6 separate regions of the Homo sapiens genome follow, and regions 2, 3, 4, 5 and 6 are each linked to region 1. The links come from fine-mapping of genetic effects on gene expression. A gene starts in region 1. Each other region holds a variant in brackets. All regions are shown on one strand. Distances are between the middles of the regions. Region 1 holds the start of OLFM1 (olfactomedin 1). Region 2 overlaps LOC101448202 (a long non-coding RNA gene). Region 3 holds the start of FCN1 (ficolin 1). Region 4 has its middle 39 kb from the start of FCN1. Region 5 holds the start of LOC105376314 (a long non-coding RNA gene). Region 6 has its middle 66 kb from the start of FCN1.

Region 1 (4,811 bases):
TGGAGTCAATGCCACCACACCATGCACTTCAGTAAGGATTGGGTGCCAGGCATGGCAAAGCCCCAGTGCCACCAGGGGCGCAGCACCTGCCCCATCAGCATCCGTATGATTGTTCAGAGCTGCAGGTGTGATGAGCCCTGGCTTTAAGAGAAGTCGTGAAGAAATTGGGATTGAAAGTCCTCTTTAGGAACACTTGGTATTGCCTGGCGCCATGGATCCCCTAATCCAAATGCCTTCATTCTTCAACGATCCATACTTTCCTTCTGGAATGCTCCATGGCCTTCTAAATCCAATTACACTTACTCAAGCCTTATCTGACGACCCTTTCAAAACCATTATGCCCACTGAATCACAGATTTTAGAAACTGGACAGGACAGTTTGGAGCAGGTGCAGGTTGGAGCCGCTCAGGTGCAGGTTGGAGCCGCTCAGGTGCAGGTTAGAGCAGTCCAAGTGCAGGTTAATCTTTTACTTCGTTAAATAAATAAATGTCTATGGCTTCTGAGATGGCCTGACAGTTTTGTGGATTGGATTGGGTTGCATTTGAATTTGTTCCCGCAGAACAAGTGGTCCTTGTCCTTCCGCAGCGGGAAGCGGCGTGAGTGATCTGGACAGACACGGCTTGTGGCCTTGAATCGGTGTTAAACATGCATGGCCAGAGGAGGGGGGCGAAGCCAGCCCAACCGGACTTGTGTCTCCGCCTGGGCCCAGTCTGTGAGCCGGGCCTGCAGTCCCAGCTTACACTGGGAGATGGCGCCCTTCCCCAACAGTTGGAATTTCCTGGCATCCGACCCAGCCCGGCTGCCTGAGATTACAGCATTAATCAGAAAAGCAGATCTGAGGGGCTCATTTAACTAGCGGGTCTCACACCCAGCACTCAGGCCAGGATCATCTTGGCTGCAGCTGAAGTCTCTTCAGCCGAGGACTGCGCACACAGAGAGAAAAGCCCCAGGAAGGCGTTGTTCCTCTCAGGCGGGCGCCAGGGAGGCGCGCTCCTTCCGGCCCGGCGTCCGTCTTTCAAATCCCATCCAGGAAGGGAGATTAATTTTCGCCCAGGCAGAGAAGAGTGTAGTGAGTGATCTGGAGGATTCTTTCCTTCCCAAATGGCTGGGAAAGCTTAATGGAAGGCCCCGGAGGAAGTGGCTTTCATCTCCGATTAGAAGCCTTCTGTAAATGCAAAAGCCCTATTAACGTGTTTGACCCAGTCAGGCCTGCGCTTCAGGTGGGACTGACACGCGTGAGTCCTGCTGCGGTCGCCGCAGAGGGCCGGGAAGAGGGGCAGCGTGCGCCACTTGCCCTGCCTCTGTGCCTGGGCGCCATGACTCGAGCGCCACCCCTGAGTCAGTAAGGACACCCCCCAACCCACACCCCTCCACCACAGACCCCAGTCCCCGCCCCACACACCCACCTCCCCAACACCAGGTTCATGGGCGTGGTCCCTTCAGCTCCTGAGGTCCAGGCCTGAGCCCCAGACCTTATGCAGCTCCTGCCGGGTGTGCGCCCTCCCAGGGCCCTCACTGCGCACCGCGGGCCACGGCAGACCACCCCAGCCCCCGCCTTGCTGTGCAGGTGTCAGGAGTGCCGGTTGGCTCCCTTCCTCCCAAGCAAGGCCTTAGGGCACCGCGGCTGCCCTGGGATCGCAGGGGCGCCTTTAGCTCTCCACCGATGCCCCGACGCCCCCCTGGCGCTGGAGGCCCTCGCGAGTCTGGCTGCTTTTCGGAGCCTGCCCTGCCTGCTGGGTTTCAGGCGACGGCCCAGGCTGGCTGGGACCCTCGAATCACCGCGGAAAAGGGCTCCAGTAGGCAGGACGGCGCCGTCTCTCTGCCGGCAACCTTTGCCCCAAAGCGGACCCTCTGCGGGGATCGGAGAGGGATGCCCCGGCGTGAGGATGGGAGAAGCCCCGGGACGGGAGGGCCGCGGGCCGTGCCCCCAGCTGGAGTCCCCGCGCCGCCGCCGGGTATTTTATGATCTGGGGGTGGTGGTGTGTCCGTCTCCTCATGTCACCCTGATCCCAACTCCTGGGCGGACTGGAGTTTGCAGACCTCGCTGCCAGCAGCCAGGGGGCGGCGGGGAGCCGAGCGAGAGGAAAAATCCACCCATTTCCTGGGCGGATTGCGTCGGTCCCGCCCGGCCGAGCCCCGCCTCCCGGCCGCGGCCCCCGCGCGCAGCCCGCGCAGCGCTCAGAGCCGGACGGCGCTTCCCGGTGGCGGCGGAGGAGCCCGGAGGGACGCAGCCGGGCAAGGCAGGGCGCAGGGCGGGCGGCGCGAGGCGCAGGGCGCGGCGGGCAGAGGCCACCTGGCCACCTTCCCTGGCGCCCGGGGAAGGCGCGGCGATGGCCGGGGCGCGCGGGGCGGCGGCGGCGGCGGGCGGGCGGCGGCGGGCCGAGGGGGCGCGGGGACACAGCCAGGCGCCCCTGCCCGCCGCGGTGCCCGCCGCCTGAAGGCCGCCTGGGCGCGGGAGCCGGTGCCAGCTCGGAGCGGGCGCTGGAGGCAGCTCGAGGCGCGATGTCGGTGCCGCTGCTCAAGATCGGGGTCGTGCTGAGCACCATGGCCATGATCACTAACTGGATGTCCCAGACGCTGCCCTCGCTGGTGGGCCTCAACACCACCAAGCTCTCGGCGGCCGGCGGCGGGACGCTGGACCGCAGCACCGGCGTAAGTGCGCCCGCCGGCCGCCTTGGCGCGGCTCCTCCTCCTCCTCCTCCTCCCCCTCCTCGGTCCGGAGCCCCGGGCTGGGCGGGCGCCGCGCGGGACCCGAGTCGCCCAGGGAGGCGGCGGGGAGCAGGGCGGGCAAGGGCAGGCGTCGCGGGCCGGCGCAGCGGTGGCGACCCTGCTCCCCGCTCCCCCAGCCTGGGCCACTCCATCTCCGCCCGCGCGCCCCTGGGGCGGCGTTTCCTTCGTCTGGGCCCCTCGCCGCGGGGCCGGGGGAGCTTGGTGGGTTCTCGGAGGCTTGGAGTCCTGGGTCAGTAATCATGAGCCCCCCATTGAAAAGGTTAGGAAACTAAGGCTGGGGACTTGGGGACTTGTCCAAGGTCACACTCAGCGAGTGAGGGGTGGAGCCGCCGCTAGACCCTAGTCTGGGCTCGGTCCAGCGGGGACTGAGCCCGCCCTAGTTTGTAAAAGCCAGACTGGCCGGACCGGGCTGGGAGTGGGGCCCCAGCCGGTGGGCTCCGGAGCTCCTGCCCGCGCCTGCATTCCCAAAGTCCCAAGGCGCCCTTTCCTCCCCAGTCCATAGGAGGGTTTGTTCCTTCTCCTCCGAGGACGGTGCCGAGGGGCTTGGGTGGGGCCCCTGGGAGCCTGCCCTTGGGCGCTCACCCCCTCGCCTTTGCCTTCGTCTTCTGCGCGCACCCCTCCCTCCTGGCCTCTGAAATTGAAATCGCGTCTCCCTCTCGAGCCTAGCGGGAGGGGAACCGTGGCCGGGGCTGCTTCTGGGCAGAGCTGACTTAGATGGCTGAGCGAGGCTGAGCTGAAACCGCCACCCGGAGGGCCGCGCGGGGAAGGGGCCGCTGCCGGGAAGGCGCGCCCCAGACCACTGGCCCTTTAGGCTGAAAGGAGAGGTGAAGGACGTGAGTCTCCCTCCCTCTCTCTTTTTGCTGCCAGGGGTTTAGTGCCCTGCGAAGAGGGCTCCGTGGTGTGGCTCCCTCCTAAGACCCCTCTTGAGGCCGCCCTCCCTGCTCCTTCAGGAATCGGAGGGCGATTCCTCCATGATGACTTTGTTCCGGCCTGCCGGTCCCGATCTTCTGGGGTTGGGAATGAATGAGATTAAAGATATGACTACTATAGATTCTACCCGCCCAACTTCTCCTCCCCATCTTCATGCTAAAAATAGCAGAGAGATGACCTGATGCCACCGGAGGGGAGCGTGCTCAGAGACAGTAGGGCCAGCAGCAGGATGGAGCTGTGTAGGCTCAGGAGTGCCCGCCCCGGTACCTGGCAGGGCTGGGCTGCAAGGTTAGACCAGACATGGGCAGCTCCGGTTTCTTTGGTGATCTTTGGGCAAACCTCAGGACTGAGGTTGGGGGTGACCCCTGCACAGCATGTCACCAGCAATTTGGCGACCTCCACCAAATGGCTCGTGGGGGGAGCCCACAAGGAGCTGGAAACCTAGTGTTTTCTCGGGTCGGTCTGTGCCACGCTGCCGGCTGGGAGGTTGCTGTAGCTCGGGGTTCATCACAGCTCTGGGCGAATAGGCTGCTGGATCTGGGGCTGTTACAGTGGGTGCTTCGTCTGCAAGTGTCAGGGAACGGCAGGGCGAGGCTTGGTGGTGCCAGCCACCCGTGCTTGACTTACGGGAAGGATATCCTGTTTCTGAAATACGTGCCCGCTGCAAGCCACCCAGCGTTTGCTTTCCTGCCTTGCTCCTAGTCCAGCCTGTGGCCTCCAGTTGCCCCTCCCATCCACCCAGCAGATCAATTTGGCCAGACGACAAACTCCAGACATCCCTTGAGTTGAACTTAAATTTTAAGAACGTAAAGGGTCTTGCCTCTTTGACATCCTTCCAGCCCTGAGCCCCCTAACAGGAGACCTGTGCCTCTTTGTTCCCAGGGACCCTTTCTTCCCTTTGGGTCAAACATGTCTTGGGACCATTTCCTCCCATCTTTTCCTTGGGGGTGGATGTGGACAGTTTCCCCTGGTTGTTGGCTCTGATACACAACCTCATGGTCTCCCTTTCTCTCCTTCCCTCTCCCTTCCCGCCCCGCCCCTCTCCAGGTGCTGCCCACCAACCCTGAGGAGAGCTGGCAGGTGTACAGCTCTGCCCAGGACAGCGAGGGCAGGTGTATCTGCACAGTGGTCGCTCCACAGCAGACCATGTG
Region 2 (4,811 bases), 230 kb before region 1:
TGAACAATGAGAACACATGGGCACAGGGAGGGGAACATCACATGCTGGGGCTTGTCGAGGGGTGGGGGTCAAGGGGAGGGAGAGCCTTAGGAGAAATACCTAACGTAGATGGTGGGTTGACGGGTGCAGCAACCACCATGGCACGTGTATACCTATTTAACAAACCTGCACATTCTGCACATGTACCCCAGAACTTAAAGTATAATGAAAAAAAAAAAATGTGCACCTGGCATTTGGTGTGGAAGGTAGACCCAGGAGGCACAGAGGCGGCTTCAGCAGTCTAGAGAAATAGTAAGAACATGGGGGAAAGCATAGACGACAGTCACCCTGCTCACTGCCACCCCACTTGGTGCAGGAGGGGACCCCAGGCCACCTATACAGTCAACACCTTCCACGCTGGCTCCCACCACTCCTCACCCCATCTTCTGCTCTCTGACACCCTGGCCCCCTTCCTGTGTCTCAGATCCGCCAAGACTTTTTCCTTTATGTAAGACTTTACCCCAAATATTGCATATCTGACTCATGTTTTTCAGTTCTTGACTCAAATGTCACCTTTTCAGAGAGCTTTTGTGGAACTAAAAGTTAAAAAAAAACAACAACTCACGCCTCAGACTTCTAGCATCTGACAGTTGAGAGAAGCTTACATTAGATTAACTCTCCTGTGAACAAAAATACTCTGGAAAACCTACGAAAATACAACTATTGGAAGGCAATGCAGAGTCACGATGAGGCTGAGGACTTGCTGCCAGAGATTGAGGCGACCGGAGTGGCTGGGACTGGGGTGAGAAATTCTGAAAACGAGGGAGTCATGTGGGGAAGCCCCAGCATCTGCTGACAGAACGTGTTCATAGCCTTGCCTGCCTCCTGGTGTCAACATGCAGAGATGTGGCCTCCCTCCTGGCACCTTCTCTCCTCACCAAAGTGCCATGGGCAAGACTCACAGAGAAACAGTGAGCCCCTCAGAACTGGTAGCTAAAAGCCCATGGCAGGCTGCCCGGATTCCCTGGCCCTTAGTCACCTGGATTCCAAAATACCAAATTGACATAGACTCCAATGAACCTGCTGGGGAGAAGCTGCTGGAAGGCTGGCACGGCTGAGCAGAGATTCCAGCGGCTCCCCAGGGCTGAGGAGACAACTGGAGTTCAAGCCCCACACTTTAATGAATTTGGCAAATCAGGCTTTCCATTGAGACCCAATGCTTAAGCATTATATAAGCACCATATTCCAGAACTAAAGCTTTTACCTTAGGATTAAGGACAACACAGAAGCCTTCTAACAAAGTCTAAAGCCAAGCATCCACATAATCAAAAGTGATCTTCCAGCAACTTGCCTGCCTGCTGGCACAAAGCTCAGCTTTGTCTGAGAGAGGGTACAGAATTCAGAATTCTATGACATAGCATTCACGATGCTTTGCACAGAATCAAGACTTACTAGACATGGAAGTGAAGAAGGAAAATGTAATCCATAATCAAAAGGAAAAAAAAATCAATGGAAATGAATGAATGAGTGTTCAGACGCTGAAATTTGCAAATTATTTAAATAAGTAGAATAAATATGTTAATTTGTATGCAAGAAAATTTAGATGTAATGAGTGGAGAAATGGAGGATTTCAAAAGAGATACAGAAATCTAATGACAAGCAAAGTATAAATATTAAAAGTAAAAATTTTGATATGTAAAATTAAACATTTATCAGATGGGGAATATAAGGAAGGATCAGGGAATACAAAGAAGTGTTGATAGATGTAGAAAGTAAAAAAGTTCCTCTTCAAAGTTTCCCTTCTTATTAAAGAATAAATCATAAGTATTAGAAATAATAGTTTCTTTTAAAGACTAGCTTTATGCTAGACATGCTCACAGGCATGTAGTACATTCTATGTCCTTGTACTTTAACCAAAATATCTGTGCTGGAAGTGCTCACAGGCATGTCCCAGCTCGCAGCCCATGCCCCTTCCTTATTTGGAAATGTTATTACTTTTCTAAGTCCTTTCATAAGCAAATTCCTCTTTTCCTTTGTCTTTCCATTACTTTTACCTATTTAAAAAAGTTTTAAACTGTTAGCCAATCAGGTTTTAGTTTAGATTGTAAGGTCTGGCTCCTGCCAATGGAGACAGGACACAGCAGCAGGGACAAACTGCGTAAGGAATAAAAATTGCTTCCCTCCTTTGTTCGGATGTGCTCTCGCCATTATTCCATCTGCGATGAGCACTCTTTCTGCAGAAAGTACAAAAGGCCTTGCTGAGAGGATTAAATTTATGTTCAAATGCTATTTCTTTGCAGCACTGGGGAACAAGCATTCTGTTTCTACATAAACATTTTTACATGTGACATAGATACCAAAGTTGAGGCATGGAAAATAAAGTTTCTAGAACAAGTGCACAAAGCCTCCGTCTTCACTGGGAAGGTAGTGAGCAAACTGAGAGAGTGCAATTGCAGTCCAAAGAAGGGAGAGGGAAGATGAGGCAGAAGAATCGTTCAAGAAATACTGGCCAAAACTTTCTAAATCTGATCAAGAGCATGAACCTGCATATCTAAGATCTCGATGAAACCCTAGCAGGAGGCCGGGCACGATGGCTCACGCCTGTTATCCCAGCACTTTGGGAGGCTGAGACGGGTGGATCATCTGAGGTTAGGAGTTCAAGACCAGCCTGACCAACATGGTGAAACCCTGTCTCTACTAAAAATACAAAATTAGCCAGGCGTGGTGATGCATGCCAGTAATCCCAGCTACTCGGGAGGCTGAGGCAGGAGAATCGCCTGAACCTGGGAGGCAGAGGTTGCAGTGAGCCGAGATCACGCCACTGCACTCCGGCCTGGGCAACAAGAGTGAAATTCCGTTTTGGGGAGGAAAAAAAAAAGCAAACCCTAGCAGGATAAACACAAAGAAAAAATCGCACCAAGGCGTACTGCCAAAAACAAAAGGTCAAGGGAA[A/T]ACCTTTTTTGTTTTTTGAGACGGAGTCTCGCTCAGACCTTCCACTTCCACTGTTCTTCCACCTTCCCTACGGATCAGCGTTTCCATCTGGTAACACCTCCCCGAGCTGTAGACCTCCCTTCAGCGTTGCTGGGGGTATGGATCTGCTGGCAACAAATTCTCTCAGCTTTCACTCAACTGAAAAAAGTCTCATTTCACCTTCATTTTTGAATCATCTAGTTACAATTCTAAGTTAAGAATTTTTGTCTTGCAGCAACTTAGAAATGTTCTTTCATTATCTTCTCCTTTTATGATGAGAAGTCGTTTACCCTTCTGATTAATTTTTCCTTTTTTCTTCTTCTCCGGTTATTTTTAAGATTTTCCTTTAAACGGTGTGGTGGCTCACACCTGTAATCCTAGCACTTTGGGAGGCTGAGGCGGGTGAAGGTTAGGAGTTCTAGACCAGCCTGGCCAACATGGTGAAACCCCATCTCTACTAAAAATACATGGTGGCTGTGCCTGTAGTCCCAGCTACTTGGGAGGCTGAGGCATGAGAATCACTTAAACCAGGGAGGCAGAGGTTGCAGCGAGCCAAGATGGCACCACTGCACTCCAGCCTGGGTGACGGAGTGAGACTCCATCTCAAAATAAATAAACAAATGAAAATAAATAAATAAATAAATAAATAAATAAAAAGCCAACAGAGGAGAGAGAATGAAGTACTAAAACATGCTTGACCAGCTCAAGGCAAGATAGGTAAGATAGAACAAAGATAGGATATGAAATAAATAGCAAGATGGTACCCCTAACAGAACCATATCGATAATTACATTAAACGTAAATCAACTAAACACTCAGAAGGCACAGGTTGTCAGGATGGATTTTTTTTTTTTTTAAAAGAAGGATCCAGTGACTCGCTGTTTACAAGAAGGCACTTGCAGGGACAAACAGGATGAAAGCAAATGAATAGAGAAACACACACCACACAAACAGTGACCTTGCGACGTACCCTACAGATAGCCTCAGTTCATTTTCCTGCGTGCTCAGCAACCACTGTTTCCTGTTCCCAGTCACACAACCAGGCTGCGTTCCCTAGTGTTCCTTGCAGTCACCCAGCTGTGGTTCAGGTGGGGCCGAGGGGCAACAGGTGGAAGGGAGGTGCTCCATCACCATTAGGCACCAGGGAGTCACCAGAAGCCCCTGCCACGGGCACCCCCATGCTCTCTTCCAGTTCCAAGTGGCTGGAGTGGAGACCCACCTCAGGACAGGGGCCACATATGGAACGTGGAAAAGCCACATGCTAGAAGAAGCTGGGGACCTGGAATCACTGTGGAAGGAGAGGTGTCTGGCCAGGGGCACTTACCCTGTACTTTTATGACAGCAACAAATAAACGTGTGTGTGTGTGCGTGCATGTGTGTGTGTGCGCGTGTATGTGTGCATGCATGTGCATGTCCGTGTGTGTGTGCATGTCTGCGTGCATGTGTGTGTGTATGTGTGTGTGTGCCTACATGTGCATGTCCGTGTGTGTGCGCATGTGTGTGTGTGCGTGTGTGTGTAGCCACTGAGATAGCTGTTTCAGTTTGCTTTTCCTTAATAATACTCTCTACTCGTATTTACTTTGCAGCCCACATTGCTTTCTTGAGATATATGATCTGATATTATAATTATGCATTCATTTGTTTGTCTAGTTGTTTATTTTCTGTTTGCCCTCAATAGAACAGGTTTCTAGAGCACAAGGACCAGTCTTTCTGTTCCCTACTGCACCACAGGGCATAAAACAGTACCTGGCACATAGTAGGTGTTTATTAAACACAAGCCCTTTTTCTCTTGTACTTATGAGACCACAATAGTTGGAAGCCAAATCCCTGTGTGCTGGCGCAGGGAATGCTACTATAGAGCA
Region 3 (4,811 bases), 170 kb before region 1:
CTCAGGTCCAGCCTGCGGAGTGGGCACAGAGGACCTGGCCCCGGACACCCACACGGAAGCCTAGACACGTCAGTGAAAGTCCAAGTCATAGGGACATTTGAGCTTGTCCCATCTACACTGGGACATCCCCACCAAGTGCTCCGCAGGCATCATCTTGAATGCGTCCAGGCATGGGGAGCTCACCCCCTAAGGCAGCGCCCTTTCTGAGTTTTTGTGCACGTCTGCCTTATGCCATGCTTAGGGGGACCCAAAACCACCCAAGGCAGGTGCCTGCTGTTCATTCTCCCATGTTCCCTGCAAATCCACATGCAGAGCTCAGGGCTCAGGATTCGGGTGCCCTCTGTGCCCTGAAGTAGACCAGTCCAAGTCCCAGCCCCACTCCTTACTGGTTTGTCAAGTAGGAAAGCCTGTGACCTCTTTGAGTCTCAGTTTTCCCATATGAGGCAGGTGCAGAAGAAAGCGGTCACCTCAATTTTCAGGTGAGAAGGTGGAGGGACACAGAGCTTAGAAGTCGTGCCAGTAGCTGAGCAAAGCTGGTATTGGATCAAGGACTAGGAGACAGAGCTACAGAAGCATGTCCAAATGTGAGCTCATGAAATAGTTAGGAAAGACCCTCCCTCCATTTCAGAACCCTGTTGGGCCCTGGGAGTCAGCTCTGTTCCTGGCTCTAGCAGGGGCCTGACCCAGGCTCTTGATCTAGGAACCACGGTGGGGGTGTTGCCCAACTCTGCATCCAGTTTCATAAAGAGCAAGAGCCAGTGCCCCTGCCATGCCTGGCCTCCCCACCCGGCCCGCACCTACCTCTCTCTCCAATGACACCTGCCTCTCCCTTTGGCCCTGGGGCCCCGGGCAGCCCCGGGCAGCCTCGGAGAATGGTGAGCTTGTCAGAGCCCTCCAGGCCCACCACCTTCACCTCTGCAGAGAAACACAGGTGCCCACTCAGTGCCTGGCCCAACAGTGGCTGGGAAGTGAGGTTTTCTGCTCTGCTGGGGCCTTGGTCTGTCCTCACCCCTCAGGCACTGGTGAGGCGGAGATGTGATGGGGGGCAGAGCTCTGGCTTTGGAGGCCACCCCGACCTAGGGGAGCCCCATCTCCTCAGTGCTGTGTGTCCTGCAGCAAGTAACTTAACTCCTCTGAGCTTTGTGCCCTGGGCTGCCAAGCGGGGATAATAACAAGGTTGCGGCCAGGATTTGGTTAAAGAATGTGCATTTTAAATCTCTTATTGTAATTTATGGCATTTAGAAAGAGCTTAATAAACAGCGGGCACTTTCAATAACTAATGACAATCAATATTTCTAAGAAACTTGGGGAATTGGGGCTGACAAAGCATTTTCCCTCCCAGACCTTGGGAATGTGGTTGTAGAATTACTGGGCTGGAAGGGGCTTTCTAGGTCCTCTGGAGAGGGGCAGTGTGGGGTCCAAGGACACAGAGCCAGGTGTGGCACAGCTGCAGCCAAACCAAAGTTGTTTACTTCTTTGAAAAAATATTTTTCATTTTGTTCATTACAAAATCTACACGCCCTGCTAAGGGCGCTCTTAGAGACCATGGAACGGAGCAGTGCTCTCACCGGAGACATGGCACTGCCATTTTTGGGGTATTTCCTTTCTGTGTTTCCAGTCCTCCTTCCACTAGAGCAGGCTGTAATTTACTATTTATGTTTCCTTCATAAATATGTTATCAGCCAGGGGCACCAGGCCGTCCTTAGGAGCAGTCTCTTGCTGAGCGTCACAGAACCACCTGCTCCTGAATCAGTGAGGGAAACACCTTACCACCGTTCAAACCCTTGTCCCTATCAACTGATTCCGACTCTCTTGGAGGAGAGCCAGAAATCTGCCTTTTTAACAAACCCCCCAAGTCCGTGTGGCAGCCACCGTATTAGAGGGTCTTAGAGTGCCTCCCTGGTAAGCCCGTAAGAAGATAAAGTCAACAGTATTTTCTTCCTTCTCAGTGACAGATTCCAGACCCACCTATGAAGCTCCAATGGGCAAATCCTGGGCTTTCGAGGCAGACAGACCTGGTGACATCCCTCCCCTATCCCTCCATGACCCTGGGCAATGCCTCAGCTGCCCTGAGCCTCCATGTCCTTGCCTGAGGATAAAACAGATCTGTTGGGCATCTTCACAGGAAGATGTGCATAAAAGGTTTTGCCTGGGACACCCGAGTGTCAGTGAGTGGGGTTGTTACCAGCTTTTAGGGACCAGAAAACCCAGGTCTGTCTCACCTGGACATGTGTCCGCAGCCTGGGCAGGCAGGTTCTTGATATGCAGGAACAAGACTAGCAGGACAGCGAG[C/A]CCCCGGGCCATGGTGGCTCCACTCAGCTCCATGCTCTCTGGCCTTTGACTCTGAAGAGTCCCCCAGCTCTAACAGGGCAGAGGAAACCAGCTCTCGCCTTGTGCCACAGTTTCTCAACTCCCTGGGGGACACCCACTTCCTATGGGCTGCTTAGTTGCACCAACAGGAGGTATGAGGTCATCTCAAAGGATGTTTCCTTCCACTAGGCTCCAGCAAGATGCCCACCCCATTGGGCTCTCTTCCCCCAGCAAAGACACCCTGCTCCCAGTCCAGAGAGCTCCTGAGACTCCTCTGCTGGAAAGCATCGGCTTTGCTTGTGGCTTAAGGAGAACACAGCCCCCACACCCCCTTTCCATTCCCCAGCTGTCCCCAAGCAATACTCGGAAACCTTGACCTTAACCTTGGGGGATAAGGAAGGTTTTGCTGAAGACGCTTCCTTGCCTCATCTGTTCCCAGAAAATTCAGGGTTTGTCCGTCATCAGGCACTTATCATGGATGGAGAGGAAAAAAATGTTGAGCACTTGTTATGTCCCAAATACTATTTCCATCATATCATCTTGCACCAGCCCCATTCGGTGGAGTAAATTATTTGAAAGTTACAGCTGGAGAAATTGAAGTCACTCCACTAGTAAGAGCCAGGCATTGGACTCAATTCTGTCTAACGCCTTGTAGATCACTGGGATTGCTCATTTCACCTGAAGGTGGGGATGCCTCTTGTTCCCCCAAATCCCTGAGGCCATGTTCCTACTCCGCATCTCGTGCTGTGAATCATGCTTAGCCAGGCCACGCTGTGGACACTTTGTGCGGGATTTTTAGAACGTATAGAAATAGTCACTAACGAGAGTCAGATGGTAGCAGGACTAAGGAGCAGGGAGAGGTGTTGTTTTGTGGTTTGCAACTTCTCTGAGCCAGCGTGTGTAGACTGGGTTTCCAAACTCAAGGGCTCCCCAGGTGGGAGAGAAGTGGAGGGGCGGCCCAGGGGTGGGGGATCCAGGAGACACAGGACCTTGTGTCCAGGCTCTCTGGGCACCACAACGACTCTCGACTGTGTGTGTTTGTGTGTGTTGGCTCCAGCCTGTTGAGAGACAACGGCAGGAGGCTTCATTGCCTCAGACACCGCTTAGTGTCCCTGAGCTACTGGCCCAGGCGGGAGAGGTCTGGGTGTCAGTGGTGCGGCCTCCTTTCTTGGAGAGGATCCAATTCAGGAGCAGCACTCACCTGGGATTGGGTCAGAACAGGGAGAAAGCCAGCAGGTCTGTGCCCCTCAATTCCATTTGCCAGCTGCCCCCTGGGTGTGAGGGGACCTCCTCTTCCTTGCAACATCAATAGGTTTATTTCAGGTGAGAAGTCAACACCACCTTCAGATATCAAGTCAATGTTCCCAAGAGTATGAAAGAATGCAAGATTCTGGCAAGTTAAAATATCTTAACATTGGATCAACAAAAGTCATTTGATTCCTGGCAATGGCAGTTTAGGTATTTGGGGGCATCCTATTAAGGACAAACAGACAAAACCTTTAAAAAGAGATTTGCTCGAAGGCACCGTCAAGCTAGCTATGTAGTAAAGGATTACTTTGCCAAGCTCTCAGGAGCCACAGAAATCTTAGAGAAGTGAAACTAGTAGTGGGGACCTCTTTTTGCACAGGGATTTGCCAATCTCCAAAAGAGAGGTGAGAAGTTGGGCAGTGATTTCACCATCTTGCAGAGCTGAAGGTCAAAGACTGGGGCCTACGGCCTGCCAAAGGTATGGGTTTGGGGTTGGCTTTCAGAAGGGCTGCACCCTAGCAATAGGATGAGTGAGCAACAACCAACATTCACAAGGGCTGCAAACTGGTTTTGAGACATCTAAGTGTCCCAGGAAAGGAATCTCAACTCCTGGAATTATTGCTCATGCCCCCAGGCTCCTTGCTGAAAGAAACAAAAATCTTCTCTGAAGGAGAATGACATCATCCCAGGTCATTATTTCTGCAAAGTGTTTTATTTTTTTCAAATGAAATGTTAAAACACAATCAACGATAACCAGGCTCATGGGAATAAAAGACAATGTGTATAAGGACCAACAGAAACAACAGAATATAGAAAGAGGTCTTTGGAAGCTGTGGATACAGAAGTTACAACATAATTAACAGGAAAAATGGAAAACCATCCTCAGAGACTGAGAACAAATAAGGATGCTTGTCATCACCACTGTGGTCAACATTGTATTGCATGTCACTGTCCAGTGCAGTAGGCAAGAGAACAAAACCATAAAAAGATTGGAAAGGCAGACACAAAGTTGTTATTTTCAGAAGACATGATTGAGGATGTAGAAAATTCTAGAGTTTCTACAGATAAACTAGCAGAATAAAAAGTTTAGCAAAAATCAATTGTGCTTCTAAAAACTAGCCTCAAAGAATTTAAAAATGAAATTTAAAAAATTTGCATCAGCAACACCAAATTCAAATAACTGTGAATAAGTCTAACAACATCCATGCTGGTCTTCTGTGTACAAAACTATCAAATAGGAACAGAAAGACCTA
Region 4 (4,811 bases), 130 kb before region 1:
ATGTGGGGGCGTACCACCATCTTAACAACAGCAAGTCATGCCCTTCAAGAATGTGGGATATCTTTGTGTTTATCTAGGTCTTTAAACATTTCTGTTAACAACCTTTTGTAGCTTTCAGTGTGCAAGCCTTGGGCTTCTTTTGTTAAATTTATCCCTAGGTATATATGCAATTATAAGTGGAAATTTCTTTAAATTTCATTTTTGGCTTTTTCATCACAAGTGTGTAGAAATAAAATTGATTTTTGTATATTAATCTTATATCCTGCCACATTGCCGAACTTGTTTATTTGTTCTAAGAGTATTTTTCATGGATTTCTTAGGAAGATCATTTCATTTGCAAATTGAGATTGTTTTTCCTTTCCTATGTGGATATCTTTTCTTTTTCCTGACTAGGTTTTGCTAGAACCCTATTGTTGAATAGAAGTGGGGAGAAGGGACATCCTCGTCATGTTTCTGATCAGAGGTAGAAAGCTTTTTCAGTCCTTCTGAATTAAGTATGAAGTTAGCTGTGGGCATCACGAGCACTCTGAGTATTTTTAGACGGTGCCAAAGCAAAGCCCTCCTCCGTTCTCAGCAGACCCGTGAACAGCCATGAACCCCAGTGTCCTTTGCTTTCTCTTGTTCCTTCATGCTCGCCTTCCACCCTCCTCTGTGCTGACCCCTCCAGGCTGCAAATAAAACCCACCAGCTGCTTCCTATGCTACTGTCAATGCATCAGCTAAAGTTGGAATCTCAGCACCAAACCCGAGCCCTTTGTGCCTAAGGCCCCGTGGCACAATAACCTCCAACACAGTCGTTAGGGTGAGACCTTAGGAGTGAACAACCCCTATGCAAATGCCCAAAAATGTATTCAGATGTCACCTATGTTTGTACCTGTAGCTGTCACAAATCGTTTAGAAGTGTGCCATTGGGTGGACGGCTGGATGGATGAAGATAGGGGACGATTTCTGATTTAACAACCACCAAGTGTCAGGAGAGAGAAACACAGTCTGCGAGTAGCACTGACTCTGGCAGAGATTTTATAACAATTCATGCAAAGATTATTTATTCAATAAATATTTATTGAGCTCCTATTATGCACTTGGCACTGGGGAAAAACAATGAAGAAGACATAGAAATCCTGTCCTCTGGCACCTAAGCCTGGTGGGTTCAGGGAGATGCATTTGGTTGCCCTGCCAGGGCCTGGGCTTGAGGAGGCCAAGCCATCTCTCCTAGTCATCTGAGCCAGAACTTGGCAAACTTCTCCCCAGCTGAGTGAGTGTGTCCAGAAGACTTGCATTACCAGGGACCCCACCATGCAGCCATGGCTTAGAGTGCCCTGGAGTCTGAGTTCAGGTCCCGCAGTTCAGAGCAGAGGGAAGGCAGCTGGCAGAGTAAGGAAGTAAGGAGAATCCATGCTCACCCTTGTCTCCCACTATGTGACCTTGGGCCTGGGGCTGGCATGGCAGGTGCTACAGCCAGACAATAGAGGCTCCAAACCCAAGTTTCTGTCACTGTGGGAGCTACCATGTCAGAGGAAGGTGATGATTAATGCACAAATATGTATTTTCTCCATCAGTCTGGTCTTTAACCAGTCTCTAGATTCATAATACCCTATCCAGGACAGGGTTTTCAGATGGAGCATCAATAATGCAGGTGCACACACAAATTATGAATGAGTTTGATCCTGGAGCAGTGATAAGTGAGACTTTCTTGGAAGGCAGGGCTCAGCTGACAGCTGTGGGCCCTGCAGTGACTCCTATCTACACTCTGGAGGGCTCCGGAAACCTCTAGCTCTGCGCCCCCTCCTCTGATGCAGTCCACATTGCAGAATGGCAGGCTCTCCTGTCCCTCTGGCTCAGCTTGTCCCAGCTTGGCCAGTCAGCCAGGGGCTACCGGGTGCTTCTGTGCCATGGTAGCATCTCTCCTCCCCTTGGCCTTTGCTGTGGAAGGAGCTACCTGGAGGAGATTGTGGCCTGGGCCAGGGACATCTGTGCCATCACCCTGGCAGGAGGTGAGGAGGCAGTAAAAGGGCAGCCCAGACTGGCAAGAGAGGGGCTGCCCACTTCGGGGGCATCACACCTACAGGAGGCATGTCCTCCAGCACGTGGTCTTCACGCTGCCCCCCGACTTGGACCTCCTTTTAAACTGTACCACACTGGGAAGTCCTTCACCACGGT[G/A]GGGCTCACCCTCACCACTGGTCCATGGCAAGGTGGAATAATACTTCCTGAGCTCCTTTTCCCCTCCAACAACTTCAGAGAATGAACAAGAAAGAGTCTAGAAGATGCAGCTGGAGGTGCCATTTTTCCTGGCATGGTGTTAAAAATTTTAAATGGGGCTGCAGTAGCCTTTCCATCTGTGTGTGTCTCTAGCTGTGTGTTTATCTGTTCACGTGTGTTGTGTGTATGTGTGTGTCTCTGTGCACGTGTGTCTCTGGGTTTCTAGGTATGTATGTCCATGTGTATTCACGTGTGTGCATGTGTTTCTGTGTATTTGTGTGCATATGTATGTGTCGATGTGTGTGTGTATGTGTGTGTCTCTGTGCACGTGTGTCTCTGGGTTTCTAGGTATGTATGTCCATGTGTATTCATGTGTGTGCATGTGTTTCTGTGTATTTGTGTGCATATGTATGTGTCGATGTGTGTGTGTATGTGTGTGTCTATGTCCCTGTGTGTGTCTGTGTCTATTTCTGTGTATGTGTCTGTGTGTGTATCTGTGTCTGCATCTCTTTGTGTGTGTGTATCTCTCTGTATGTGTCTGTGTATATCTGTGTGTGTATCTCTGTGTGTATTTCGGTGTCCGTGTGCATGTGTGTCTGTGTGTGTTTCTGTGTGTGTCTGCATGTGTATCTCTGTTTGTATGTGTATTTCTGCGTGTCTGTGTGTATCTCTGTGTGTATTTGTGTGTATTTCTGTGTGTCTGTGTGCATGTGTGTCTGTGTGTCTTTCTGTGTGTGTCTGTGTCATGTTTGTGTGCATTTGTGTCTGTGTGTATTTCTGTGTGTGTTTGTGTCTGTGTGAATGTGTGTCTGTGTGCATTTGTGTCTGTGTGCATTTGTGTCTGTGTGTATTTCTGTGTGTCTGTGTGCATTTATGTCTGCGTGTATTACTGTGTGTGTCTGTGTCTATGTCATGTTTGTGTGCATTTGTGTCTGTATTTCTCTGTGTGTTTGTGTCTGTGTCATGTGTGTCTGTGTGCATTTGTGTCTGTGTGTATTTCTGTGTGTGTCTGTGTGTGTTTGTGCATGTGCACACATGGGTGCTCCAGCCACCGAGCCCAGCCCTCGGGGCACAGAACCCTCTGGGCACAGGGGCTTGGTCTCTGCTTCCGAAACGGCACCGCCAATGTCTGTGAGTTTCGTGGGTGTCCCTGTGTGATCCCCTCACTGGAAAGTCTGGCTGGCTACAGACATTGCTGCTATTCTCCTGGCAACTGCTGCAAACCACAAAGAGCTTCTTTCTTATCCTTTGGGAGCAGGGGAACAAGGCTTCACTATAAGGGGATTAGGTTTGTATTAGGCTTTGATCAGAGAGGCAGAACCACCAGGAAATGTGGCTGAGGGATTTATTGTAGGATTTGCCCATGTTTGATAAGTCAAAGAAGGCTCTTGCTTCTGTGCCTGGTGTGGCAGCCTAGGGTCAGAAGAGCAGGTGGTGGGGCAGGAGAGCTGCATGTCAGGTTGGGCAGCAGGAGCGCCCTGGAAACTGCCGGGTCGGATGTCCTCTGCAAGGCAGTCTCCCTGTTGCTGTCCCCAGCTTTAATTCTGGGATCCCACAGGAGAAGATGGGGCCCTTCATCAGGTGCTAAATGTCACACCTGTCCTGGGAGTTAAAGAACTCATGGAAGACTATGGCAGGAACAGGGCTGCTGTGGGTCCCCTGCTGCACACTGGCAAGGTGCCTGCCCACAGGTGACAGCATGCAGGGCTGCAACAGCTCCAACCTTCTGGGCACAAAAAGAACATGGCCACTGCTTCCCGCCTTCCCAATTCTGCACCATGCCTCTTGGGGCCAAACTGACCAGGGGCTATGTAGGAAAGGGCATTCTGGGCAGTACAGTTCTGCTTGGGTGGGCTGATGCAATAGAAACCCACCACGGTCTGCCCCTTGTCAACCTGGCACCATATATGACTCACTTAGACACACTTAATGCCTGAATAAAGACAACAGCAAAATCCTTGCTTATGCCTAGCATGAAGCATGATCCTCTGAACAACTGAAAACACACTCTGCCCAGAAGAGGATACAAAACCCCTTCCTCCACCCCTGGGTGACATCTCTTCCTCCTACAGCTAAGTCTCACACCCTTTCTGATATCCTGTGGCCTAAACGCCAAGTATATTTGTTATCTATTGCTCTATAAAAAATCACCCCAAAATCCAGAGGCCTAAAACAATAAATGTGCATGATCTCACCTCTTCTGTGGACAAGAGTCTGGGCATCGCTAAACTGGCTGCCTGTGGCTCACAGTTCCTCGCTAGGCCTCAGTGAAGCTTCCAGCCAAGGCAGTGATCTCATCTGAAGACTGGACTGGGATGGTATCATCTTCCACGCTTGCGTGCATGGCTGTTGGTTTGTGTCAGCAGCTTTCTGCCATGCAGGCCACTCTGTGGGGCTACTCATGATGTGGCAGCCTGCTTCTTTCAGAAAAAGAGCTGCAAAAGAGAGAGAAAGCAAGATACTGCATGCAAGATGGAAGTCATGGTCTTTTTGTGACTTAACCTCTAATCTTGGAAGTGATAACCCTTCGCTTTTGTTGTATTCTGTCCATTCTTTGGATTGAGGTACTATGTCCAGCCCACATTCCAGGGGAGGGGATTACACAGGGCCATA
Region 5 (4,811 bases), 150 kb before region 1:
ATGTTGAGCTAGCCATCTGAGGACCTTAACTCCTCCATCACTGCTGAGCTCCACAAGCACTCTTGATTGCGATTGCGTTGAATTTGTGGGTTCGTCTGGAGACACTCGGCATTGTCCTGACATCAGGCCGCTGCTTCTGAGAGTGTGGAGCGCGCAGAGCCCTGCCCGTCTTCAGACTGTCTTCCACATCTTGTATCAGAGTGGACATTTTTGGTTGATTCCTAGATACTTAATGAATTCTGTTCCTGTGGTGAATGGCATCTTTTTCAGAATTATATTTTCTAATTGGCATTGCTGGGGAAAAGAAATGGTTTGGACTTCTGTAGGCCCAATATGTCTAGCAGAAATAGGCCATGTATCTGTCAGTCCTACTGGTGTTTTTCTACATAGATCATTTGATTAGGAAGAAGTCAATGACTCACTAAAAACGAAGCCCAGAAAAACTAGTTCTCCATTGTCTAGAGTGGTAAGAACTCATTCTTTACACACGTGCACGAACGCACACATGAGTGCACACACACACACACACACACACAACCTGGTCTGTCTTCTCCCCTGCAGAGCCCCATGGGTCCTGCTTGGTGTTATGTCTCGTGCTCCATTCACAGCACACCAGGGACACAGGTAGCAGAGCTCAAGCCTGCTTGAACAAACAGGCCAGGTATTCATAGAGTTCTGGTAGCAAGGGAGTAAATTCTGCCCGATTTCTTTCCTCCAGCCTCAGAGGTGTCTTCTTCCTCTTCCTGGAGTGACTGGGGGGTGGCTACCAAGTTTGAAAGGCAAAAGCCGACCCAGCAGACCCAGTTCCCTGCCCCTGGTAGCCTCTCCAGAGGGCACCTGATGGCAGGCCCCTCTGGAGGATGGGTGCCTCCTGCCAGATAAACTCCCTGACTCCAGATAGTCCAGGCTGCAGTGCCCAGTGGCAGCCCAGGCCAGGGAAAGGGTGGGCGAGAAGCCAGGGCTCCAGTACAGCTTTGAGCAAGCTCTGCAACAGGACGGACTCCAACCATTGAGACCAGATGACCTTTCAGAGCCTTCTCTGCTGAAGCTGACTCTCCTCTCCACCCCCTGACCCCCCACCCTGCCCCGCTGGCTCCGTCTTCCAATTCCAGGAGTCACTGTCGCCGTCAGCTGGTGACCCTGCCACTACTCAGGCCTCATGGGCAGGCAAGGGTCCCCCGGCTCTTGTGTCAGGATCTCCTTTGCAGTAAGAGATCCTAACATCTGTAGAGAATGGGTTCAGCAAAAGGCACACCTGCCAACAGGGTGGTTTGTTCCAGTGCTCAAGGCAAAGCCGACCAATAACATGCTTAGGACGTGGGAATGTGAGATGGGGCAGCTGTGGTAGAAACAGGCTGGCAGCTCCTCCAACAGCCCCCAGCAGCAACCTTGGGAATATACCCAAGAGAAATGAAACAGGCCTCCACACAAACCCCCGCACAAGCACGTTCATAGTAGCACACTTCACAATCCCCAAAAGGTGGAGGTGACCCAGGTACCCTCAACAGAAAGGGATGAACACAGTGTGGTCTCCCCACAGAGGGGAGAGTCCTTCCCCGTTTCCTCTGTCCCCGTGCTGTCACCTCCTCCCTGCCCAGATCCCTGGGCTGGCAGCAACATTGCCCTTTATAAAGCCCCCTACCAGCTACAAAAGGTGAGGTGCTTATCAGCCCTTATGAGGGAGCAGAGGGCAACAAGAGTGAGCCACGGAAGGCAGGGAGCATGGGTCCAGGCAACAACAGGGCAAGCCCTCCTAACATGCCCCACATGAGAAGCCAGGCCACACAGCCCAGGATTCCACTGACGGGAAATCGCCACAATGGGCCGATTGACAGACAGAGAGAACATTCCTTGTGGCCAGGGGATGAGAAGAAGGGTGGCAGGGGGGTAACAGCCAAAGGGTCCAGGGTTTCTTTTAAGGTGATGAAAATGTCCTAAAACTAGAATATGATGATGGCTGCACGATCCTGTAACTATACAGAAAACCTGTGCACTTTAAAAGGGCGAATTCCGCCAGGCGCAGCGGCTCCCGCCTGTAATCCCTGCACTTTGGGAGGCCGAGGTGGGTGGATCACTTGAGGCCAGGAGGTTGAGACCAGTTTGGCCAACATGGTGAAACCCCATTTCTACTAAAAATACAAAAATTAGCCAGGCGTGTTGGCGCATGCCTGTAACCTTAGCTACTGGGGAGGCTGAGGCAGGAGAATTGCTTGAACCCGGGGGGTGGAGGTGGCAGTGAGCTGACATCACACCACTGCACTCCAGACTGGGCAACGGGGTTAGAATCTGTCTTTAAAAAATAAATAAAATAAAATAAAATAAAAGGGTGAATTCTATGGTCTGTGATTTACATCTCAACAAAGCCTTTACGTTGGACAAAGAGTGCTGGGATGAAGGTACCGAGTGGGCCTCCCCCAGCACCCAGGCCCAGGGGTTCTTAGATGGTGAGGAAGGGAGCCTGACTCTGAATACTTTAAAGGGGGGATTTTCTCTAGCCCAGGATAGCAGGGTGGGACAGGCCCTGCTCTGCTATGCAACATGGTCTTTTCTTCCTCTCCCCTCTTCCTTC[C/G]TTCTTTTCTCCTTCCCCTTTCCTCTGTCCCAGCACTGTCACCTCCTCCTTGCTCAGACCCCTGGGCTGGCAGCAGCAACATTGCCCTTTATAAAGCCCCCTACCAGCTAGAAAAGGTGAGGTGCTTATCAACCCTTACGAAGGAGCAGAGGGTGAGAGTGAGGACGTCGGGCATCACCACCCAGAGAGACAAACCAATTCATGCTTGGGACTATTTGGAGGTCAGCGTCGGCCTTGAGGCAGAGGAACCTGGGGCTCCAGCAGTAAGCATCCCTCACCCTGCGGCCCACTTTAATTTCCCAGAGATAATAGCACCGGCGCCGAGTATCTGCCGGGCACCTGAAGACGGATGGCCAGTGTTTGCAGGGTAATAGTTTGTGTCAGAGTAAACTGGAATTTATACCCCGGGAGGCAGATAATCCCCTTTAGAACTCTCCAGCCTCCCTGGGACTGGAGGGGCTTTCACAGGCCGCTTGCTGAAGACATAAACAAAGACAGCTCCACGGAAGCACCCTGCTGGCCCCAAGTCCTATTTTTAATATCTTAATTGAGTCTCCAAACCCTAGAACACGGTGGCGCGACCAAATCTCCAGCCTCCACCGACAGCTCTGTGTAGGAGAGAGGTCACTGTCACCTTCCACAAACCCGGGAAAAACAAACTGGGAAGCAGGGTCGGTTTTGGAGAAGGGGCAATTGCTGTTTTTTTGGTGGTGGTTGTTTTTGTTGTTCAGCTTTGTGTATATTTTTAAAGCTTATGAACAGATGAGAAAACTCCAGGCACGTATTCTCACCTAAGTTAAACTAATGGTTCTCAAAATCCCAAATTATTTTACTGCTTTTTGTTCCCCAGAACCAGCTCACAATCTGCTTCGCGCTTGATTTAAAGGCGCTGACAAGCTGCTGCCCGCTCCCCAGCACGGTGGCGAGACTGGATTGGGACTGTCATATATAATGCATGGAGTCAGGGCCGCGAGCCGGGTTGTACGCGTGTGTGATCCGCTCTGGAGCGCTGTTCCCAGAGCCATTGTGCAAACATATTTACTCTGCATAAAAGAATGGGATGAAGCTGCAAAGGACATTTGTTCATCGAAGTGGATTTAATTTTTAAACTCGCATTAGGACAGGATCAACCTTGCTGAAGGGTATGGTGATGTGGGTGGAATGTATAAAACTAATCTAGGATCCACGTTGCTACGGGAGGAGCGCTGGGTGGAATTAAATATTTATTGCACATAAATACCTTGTCCGCCACCTCCCTCACCCCTGCACAGTCACCTCTGTGTAGCGGGTTCTCTGCTACAGTAGAGGGCAGAGCACGGGACCACGGCTTCTTCCATCCTCCCAGCACCCCGATCTGGTCATGGCAGTGACAAGAGACAGCTGGGGGTGGGCACGTGGGTTTGCAGGCTCACACACGCACATGCACGCACCCACACACGTACACACACTGTCCCTGCCTGGGTTCTTTCTCTCCTTCTACAGAGGAGCGCTCTCTCAGAGGCAGAGAGAGCCCAGCCAGCCATGGTCACCATTAAGTCACCTCCATCATACTCTGTGAGTTAGGGGGGCAAGTGAGGATGTGATCCACCAATCCCCAACGAAGAATCCTAGGGAAGAATCTGATTGGCTAGTCACCTGCCAGTCATCACAGCCGAGGGAAAGGAGGGGTGGAGCAGCGACTCCACCAACTACAAAAGGTGAGGTGCTTATCAACCTTTATGAGGGAACAATGGGTGAAGACAATGACCAGGGTGCAGGCAGGCTGACCATCCCATCGGTTTGCCTGGAACTGTCCTAGTATTAGCAATGACAGTCCCATGTCCCCAGGGCAAACCAGGGTGGTTGGTCACTGAAGTTCAAGTCCCTCTAGACATTTCCAAACCTAATTAACAAGTTGGGGAAGCGAGCTGTAACCCGTTTCTCTAGCTCTTTATTTGTGTGATTTGGCCAGAAATTGCTTCAAGAGGAGACGTTCAAAAAGGAACAAAAAATCAGAACTGAAACAATGTCGGAGGGCACTTTGGGGTTTCTTCAGCAAAATGCAAATCCCTCCATTATCTTGTGGTTTAAACCAAAGCTGCCTTTTGGAAACTCCCGCTGATTCTCCAGCCTCATGGAGGGTGGCAGGTTCCTCTTTTAAGTGTTCCAGGCTAGGAGTTGCGTGGTTAACGCTGGGGTAATACACACTCTGTATTTGCTACCACAGCCCCCCACCCCTAGAAGTCTCCCAAGAGGAAATCGG
Region 6 (4,811 bases), 100 kb before region 1:
GAAGATGATGGTTATACAGGGAGGAGGGATGGTGAGAGGATGATGGCTACACAGGGAGGAGCGACAGCGAGAGGACGACGGTTATACAGAGAGGAGGGATCGTAAGAGGAAGATGATGCTTATACAGGGAGGAGGGATGGCTAGAGGATAATGATGGTTACACAAGCGGGATGGCGAGATGATGATGGCTATACAGGTAGGAGGGATGGTGAGAGGAAGATGATGGTTATACAGGGAGGAGGGATGGTGAGAGGAAGATGATGGTTACACAGGGAGGAGGGACGGCAAGAGGATGATGATGGTTACACAGGGAGGAGGGACGGCAAGAGGATGATGATGGTTACACAGGGAGGAGGGATGGTGAGAGGAAGATGATGGTTACACAGGGAGGAGGGACGGCAAAAGGATGATGATGGTTACACAGGGAGGAGGGACGGCAAGAGGATGATGATGGTTACACAGGGAGGAGGGATGGTTATACAGGGAGAAGGGATGGCGACAGGATGATGGCTATACAGGCAGGAAGGATGGCGAGAGGAAGATGATGGTTACACAGGGAGGAGGGACGGCGAGAGGATGATGGTTATACAGGGAGGAGGGATGGCAAGAGGATGATGGCTATACAGAGAGGAGGGACAGCGAGAGGGTTATGATGGCTACACTGGGAGGAGGGACGGCGGGAGGACGATGATGGTTATACAGGGAGGAAGGATGGCGAGATAATGATCATTCCACGGGGAGGACGGACAGTGAGAGGATGGTGGTTATACAAGGAGGGCAGTAGGAGCTGCGTTTTCTTTTAAATTATCTAAATGTTTAAATTTATCTTTTTTAAAAAATTAAGAGAAATTATTTAAATGACAGGCAGCTGCTCAAAGATTCCACTGAAGTGGAAGGGTGCCCCCATCTTTACAGCAGAACGAAGGAATCCTGCACATCAGGGCTGGGTGGGCTGTGGCTGGAGAGTCAGGCTGGCTAGGCCAGGAGAGGCTCAGGATAGCCGTCCGCAGCCAGCACCCTCGTGCTGGTGCCTTGGACTGTGCGTCCTCACAAACAGCCGAATCCTGCCTTGTTCCTTTCCCAGGGCTGTTGTAGCAAAAGACCATGAATGAGGGGCCTTCAACCCCCAGGAATTCCTTCCCTTGCTGCCCAGAGGCCGGGAGCTCAACATCCAGGTCAGTGGGGCGTCACCCCAGTCTCTGCTGCCATCTTCCGCGTGTGTCTCCGGAACCCCCTTCCCCTCCTAAGGCCACCCCCCCTCAGTACAACCTCATCTCAACCTGACTACACCTGAAAGACCCTGTTTGCAAATGAGGTCTCTTTTGCAGGTATTGGGAACTAGGACTTCCCCATATCTTTCTGGGGGACAGAGTTCAACCCCACGACACCCACTAAATGCCTGTATTGCTCCTGTAGCCCCTGGAAAAGAGCCATGAACAAAACACACCCTGTTTGTCCTTGGGCAGCTTATGTTCTACCGAGGACACACAGTAAACACAGAGATGATCATTTGCTGAGAGGGACAGGCCAGGGTGAAGGGGCGACGAGTGGGCCGCACTTTGGACGTGCGGTGGAGAGATCCTGACGCTGGAACAGAGCCCTGCTGGAGTGGGGAAGGACAGCCACGCGAAGGCCCGAGGGGCAGTTTTCTCTGCGTGCACAGGAATAGCAGGCGCAAAGGACCCTGAGCACAGGGGGCGGGGGTGGGGACTGCACTTCACCCGGAGGAACTTGACCCATAGCTTTATGCAAGTCCAAGTGTGGCCTGAGGTCAGTTAC[C/T]GCCACCTGCCGGCGGCTACCCACAGAGCCCGCAGGATCTGACCCGATTATCTGCCACTCGGCCCTTCCTGTCCCTCCCTAAATAAGGCACTCAGGTGGGCTGAATAACGGCTCCAAGTATGTCCACACCCTAAACCCAGAGCCTGTGAGTATGTTCCCTGGCATGGCAAAAGGGACCCTGCAGGTGGGATTAGGTGAAGAGCCCTGGGATGGGGGCTTATCCTGGATTATCTGGGTGGCCCCATGAGCCACAAGAGTCCTTATGAGAGGGAGGCAGGAGGGTCCAAGTCAGAAAGGATATGACCACAGAAGCAGAGGTCAACGCGAGAGTCGAAGATGCCACTGTCAACCTAAGCAACAGAGACAGCTCGTCCAGTGATGCTGAGTGTATCCAGGAGTGCATAGGCGGGGTTCCTGTCCTGGCTACGAGGGCTGTGGGGACCACAGGCATGTGCAAGGAGGTTGAGGCAAGGGGAAGCTTTTAAAGGCAAAGGGAGGCATGCACATAAGTTGTTTTGAAGCAAAGAGAACCCTGGTCACAGAGTCTTGTTGTGAGAGTTGACGTCAGTTCATGCCTGGAGATGGAGACAGCGTGTCAGGCAAGGGTTCTTGTGCATCCGACCAGCTGTCCCTGTGACTCAGATAGCAAGTGGCAGTTTGGAAAGTCCTTCGGAAAAGTTCTTGCTACAGGCATATGTAGATAAGAGCCCTTCAGAGAGCCTTTATGATAGTTCTTACCGCCGGCAGGTGTGTGGGGCAGGGAGGGCCCTTCTTAGCCTCTTGACTTTTTTTTTTTGTTAGGGTTTGACACAAGTGACTCTATTTTGATTCTGACAACTTTCACGTGATGTTCCCAGCTTTGAAGGTAGAGGAAGGGGCTACGAGCCAAGGAATGCAGGAGGCCTCTAGAAGCAGGAGAGGCAGGAAGGGGTTCTCCCCTGAAGCTTCCAGGAGGAGCCAGCCCCATTGGCACCTTGGTTTAGACCTTTGACTTCCAGAACTGTAAGAAAATAAATGTGTGTAGTTTGAAGCCCCCAAGGGTGTGGCACTCTGTTCCAGCAGCTACAGGAAAGTCATGCAAGCAGCACTTGGATGCCAGTTCTGAGGCTGAGGCGGGGGAGCGGACGGAGAGGCCGCCTCCATCACAGTATCACCACGGGGTGGGTCCCACAGCGCAGGTCCCACAGGGCTCCTGCTGCTGCTGATACTCGAACTGCAGCAGGGGTGTCCTTCCTTCCCAGACCCGGCCACGGAACAGCCTTGGGAATGGGGAACCAGGACCAGCCACGGAGCCACAGAGAAGCAGAGGTCAGGGTGAAAAAAATTCAGGATGCTTCACGAATGCAAGCCAGGGGCCGACTGGAGCCCCAAGTAGAAGTGGGGTCTGTCTAGGTTGGGCTCTCCAGAAGCAGAGGCCACGGTGGAGTCTGGGAGCAGGACGTCCAGGAGGTCCAACGCCTGGAAGTAGCGGAGGCAGGACCAGGCAGAACGATGCTGTGTGCAACCTGAAAAGCCTCTGGCCCACCTGGTAGGGAGCTCTGGGGTACACGGTCCTCATTGGAATATCCCATGGAATGGCTCCCCAGGAAGGGTGTGGGCTCAGTGGGGCAGCTCTTGGCAGCCCAGGCTGGCTCAGAAGATGCCGATGGCTGAGACTGTGGGCTGACTGTTCCCTGCAGCTGGGCAGTGAGGCCATGTGTGCAGAGGGTGTCTGGGGCCCATCTCCGTGTCTACCACAGTGCCCTGGGGATCATTTGAGTCCATCTGTGGCCAACAACAGACAGACCTCTGGCCATCTGCCATGAGATGGGGCAAGGACATTAAGGTTGGGTTCGGCTGCCACATCTTGCAGCTTGTGTCTAGCTTCCAGTGCCCTGGTTTTGAAGGATGTGCCAAATCCTACATAGACCTGCTGAGCCCCCGCCTTCCTCTGCTGCCTCCTTGGGGGTGAGTCCCCATCACTGAGTGCACGAGAAGAGACTGCCCGCTGGGATGTTACAGGTGGAGGAGAAGTCCTGAACCGAGATGGTAGTAAGAACGGCATATACAGGTGTCATGCTGGCTCGGTGAAGTTGAATATTTAACACACTCAATCCAGCAGCAGACACACTAGCACAAGTGCAAACAAGACCTTGATTCATTTCTTTCTTTTGTTCATTTACTCCACAAACATCTTCCTGGGGACTAATAGGTATGACATCCCTTCTATCCAGAGTCACACTGTGGACAGACCCTAACGTTAATTCTGGGGAATCTCTTATGCCCTTTGGCGTCTGCCAATCACACTTCTTGGTGTCTGATCCCCACGGCCACCTTCTCATTCACTTGGCTGGCAGCAAGCAAGAGCCTCCGTCATGAACAGCAAACTCAGCTTTCTACCAGGTCACTGACCGCAAAGCCCTGGCTAGGAACCACCGGGATTCCAGTTCTCGCTTAGCCACCACCTTTCTTTGTGACCTTGAGAAAGTCCTCTACTGCCTGGACTTAGTTTCCATGTTGATATAAAATGTGGAAGCTGCCACCAAAGCCCTCTCCTGAATGCCACTCTATGCCTATGAGATCCAGGTCTCCTGCCTTCCGAGTCCCCTGGCCTGTGGCTCATTATCCCATTTCCCATGGCCGCGGGTGCCCTGAGCCTTCCCTTTGATATTTGTTCCATTTCTGAGAATGTGGTCAGGTCAGAGTCTCAGGAATGTCCCTCTTTGAGGCTGATGTCTGGACCACTGAGGTCTTCCTATGGTGTGGAATTGTTTGCATGGATGGCACCACCATGTCTCCCATCCCACGTGTAGGGCCCTTTTCAATGTGACCCTGCAGCTCCACTGAAAGTGGAGGCTGTTTCCTGCCCCTTGCATCTGGGCCAGCCTTGAGACTGGCTTTGAGCTGTAGAAAGTGGTGAGGAAGGTGGTGAAAATTGGGATCTCACAGCTTCCCCTCTGGCATCCCACTGCCCTGAGACACCATATAAAGAACGCAGGCCAATTAGAGAAATGCAAATCAAAACCACAATGAGATACCATCTCACACCAGTT

The links. PIP is the estimated chance that this variant, and not a neighbour inherited with it, causes the effect.
Region 2: its variant is fine-mapped to the expression of OLFM1 in ovary (GTEx, PIP above 0.99).
Region 3: its variant is fine-mapped to the expression of OLFM1 in whole blood (TOPMed, PIP above 0.99). The same link has a PIP of 0.9 or more in T cells and blood mononuclear cells.
Region 4: its variant is fine-mapped to the expression of OLFM1 in whole blood (INTERVAL, PIP above 0.99).
Region 5: its variant is fine-mapped to the expression of OLFM1 in whole blood (TOPMed, PIP 0.97).
Region 6: its variant is fine-mapped to the expression of OLFM1 in whole blood (TOPMed, PIP above 0.99).

What each region holds. Positions count from the first base shown.
Region 1 is chr9:135,085,488-135,090,298 of GRCh38, forward strand. OLFM1 (olfactomedin 1) reads left to right here and starts at 2,181. Exons shown (of 6, transcript NM_001282611.2): 1 at 2,181-2,652; 2 at 4,708-4,811. The coding sequence starts at 2,503. RefSeq lists enhancers at 481-1,341, 1,342-2,202, 2,837-3,641, 3,642-4,445.
Region 2 is chr9:134,857,763-134,862,573 of GRCh38, forward strand. All of the region lies in intron 1 of LOC101448202 (a long non-coding RNA gene), which reads right to left. Among named protein-coding and RNA genes, the nearest start is that of MIR3689F, 9.4 kb to the left of the region's middle. RefSeq lists enhancers at 82-231, 522-811. The variant A/T (reference allele first, on the strand shown) is at 2,932.
Region 3 is chr9:134,915,547-134,920,357 of GRCh38, forward strand. FCN1 (ficolin 1) reads right to left here and starts at 2,366. Exons shown (of 9, transcript NM_002003.5): 1 at 2,223-2,366; 2 at 802-915. The coding sequence starts at 2,325. The variant C/A (reference allele first, on the strand shown) is at 2,293.
Region 4 is chr9:134,954,078-134,958,888 of GRCh38, forward strand. No RefSeq gene overlaps it. Among named protein-coding and RNA genes, the nearest start is that of FCN1, 39 kb to the left of the region's middle. The variant G/A (reference allele first, on the strand shown) is at 2,160.
Region 5 is chr9:134,932,308-134,937,118 of GRCh38, forward strand. It overlaps LOC105376314 (a long non-coding RNA gene), which reads left to right and starts at 4,217. Exons shown (of 4, transcript NR_188683.1): 1 at 4,217-4,266. It overlaps LOC124902302 (a long non-coding RNA gene), which reads right to left. Exons shown (of 2, transcript XR_007061846.1): 2 at 4,483-4,811. RefSeq lists an enhancer at 730-789. The variant C/G (reference allele first, on the strand shown) is at 2,570.
Region 6 is chr9:134,981,501-134,986,311 of GRCh38, forward strand. No RefSeq gene overlaps it. Among named protein-coding and RNA genes, the nearest start is that of FCN1, 66 kb to the left of the region's middle. RefSeq lists enhancers at 988-1,578, 1,579-2,167. The variant C/T (reference allele first, on the strand shown) is at 1,780.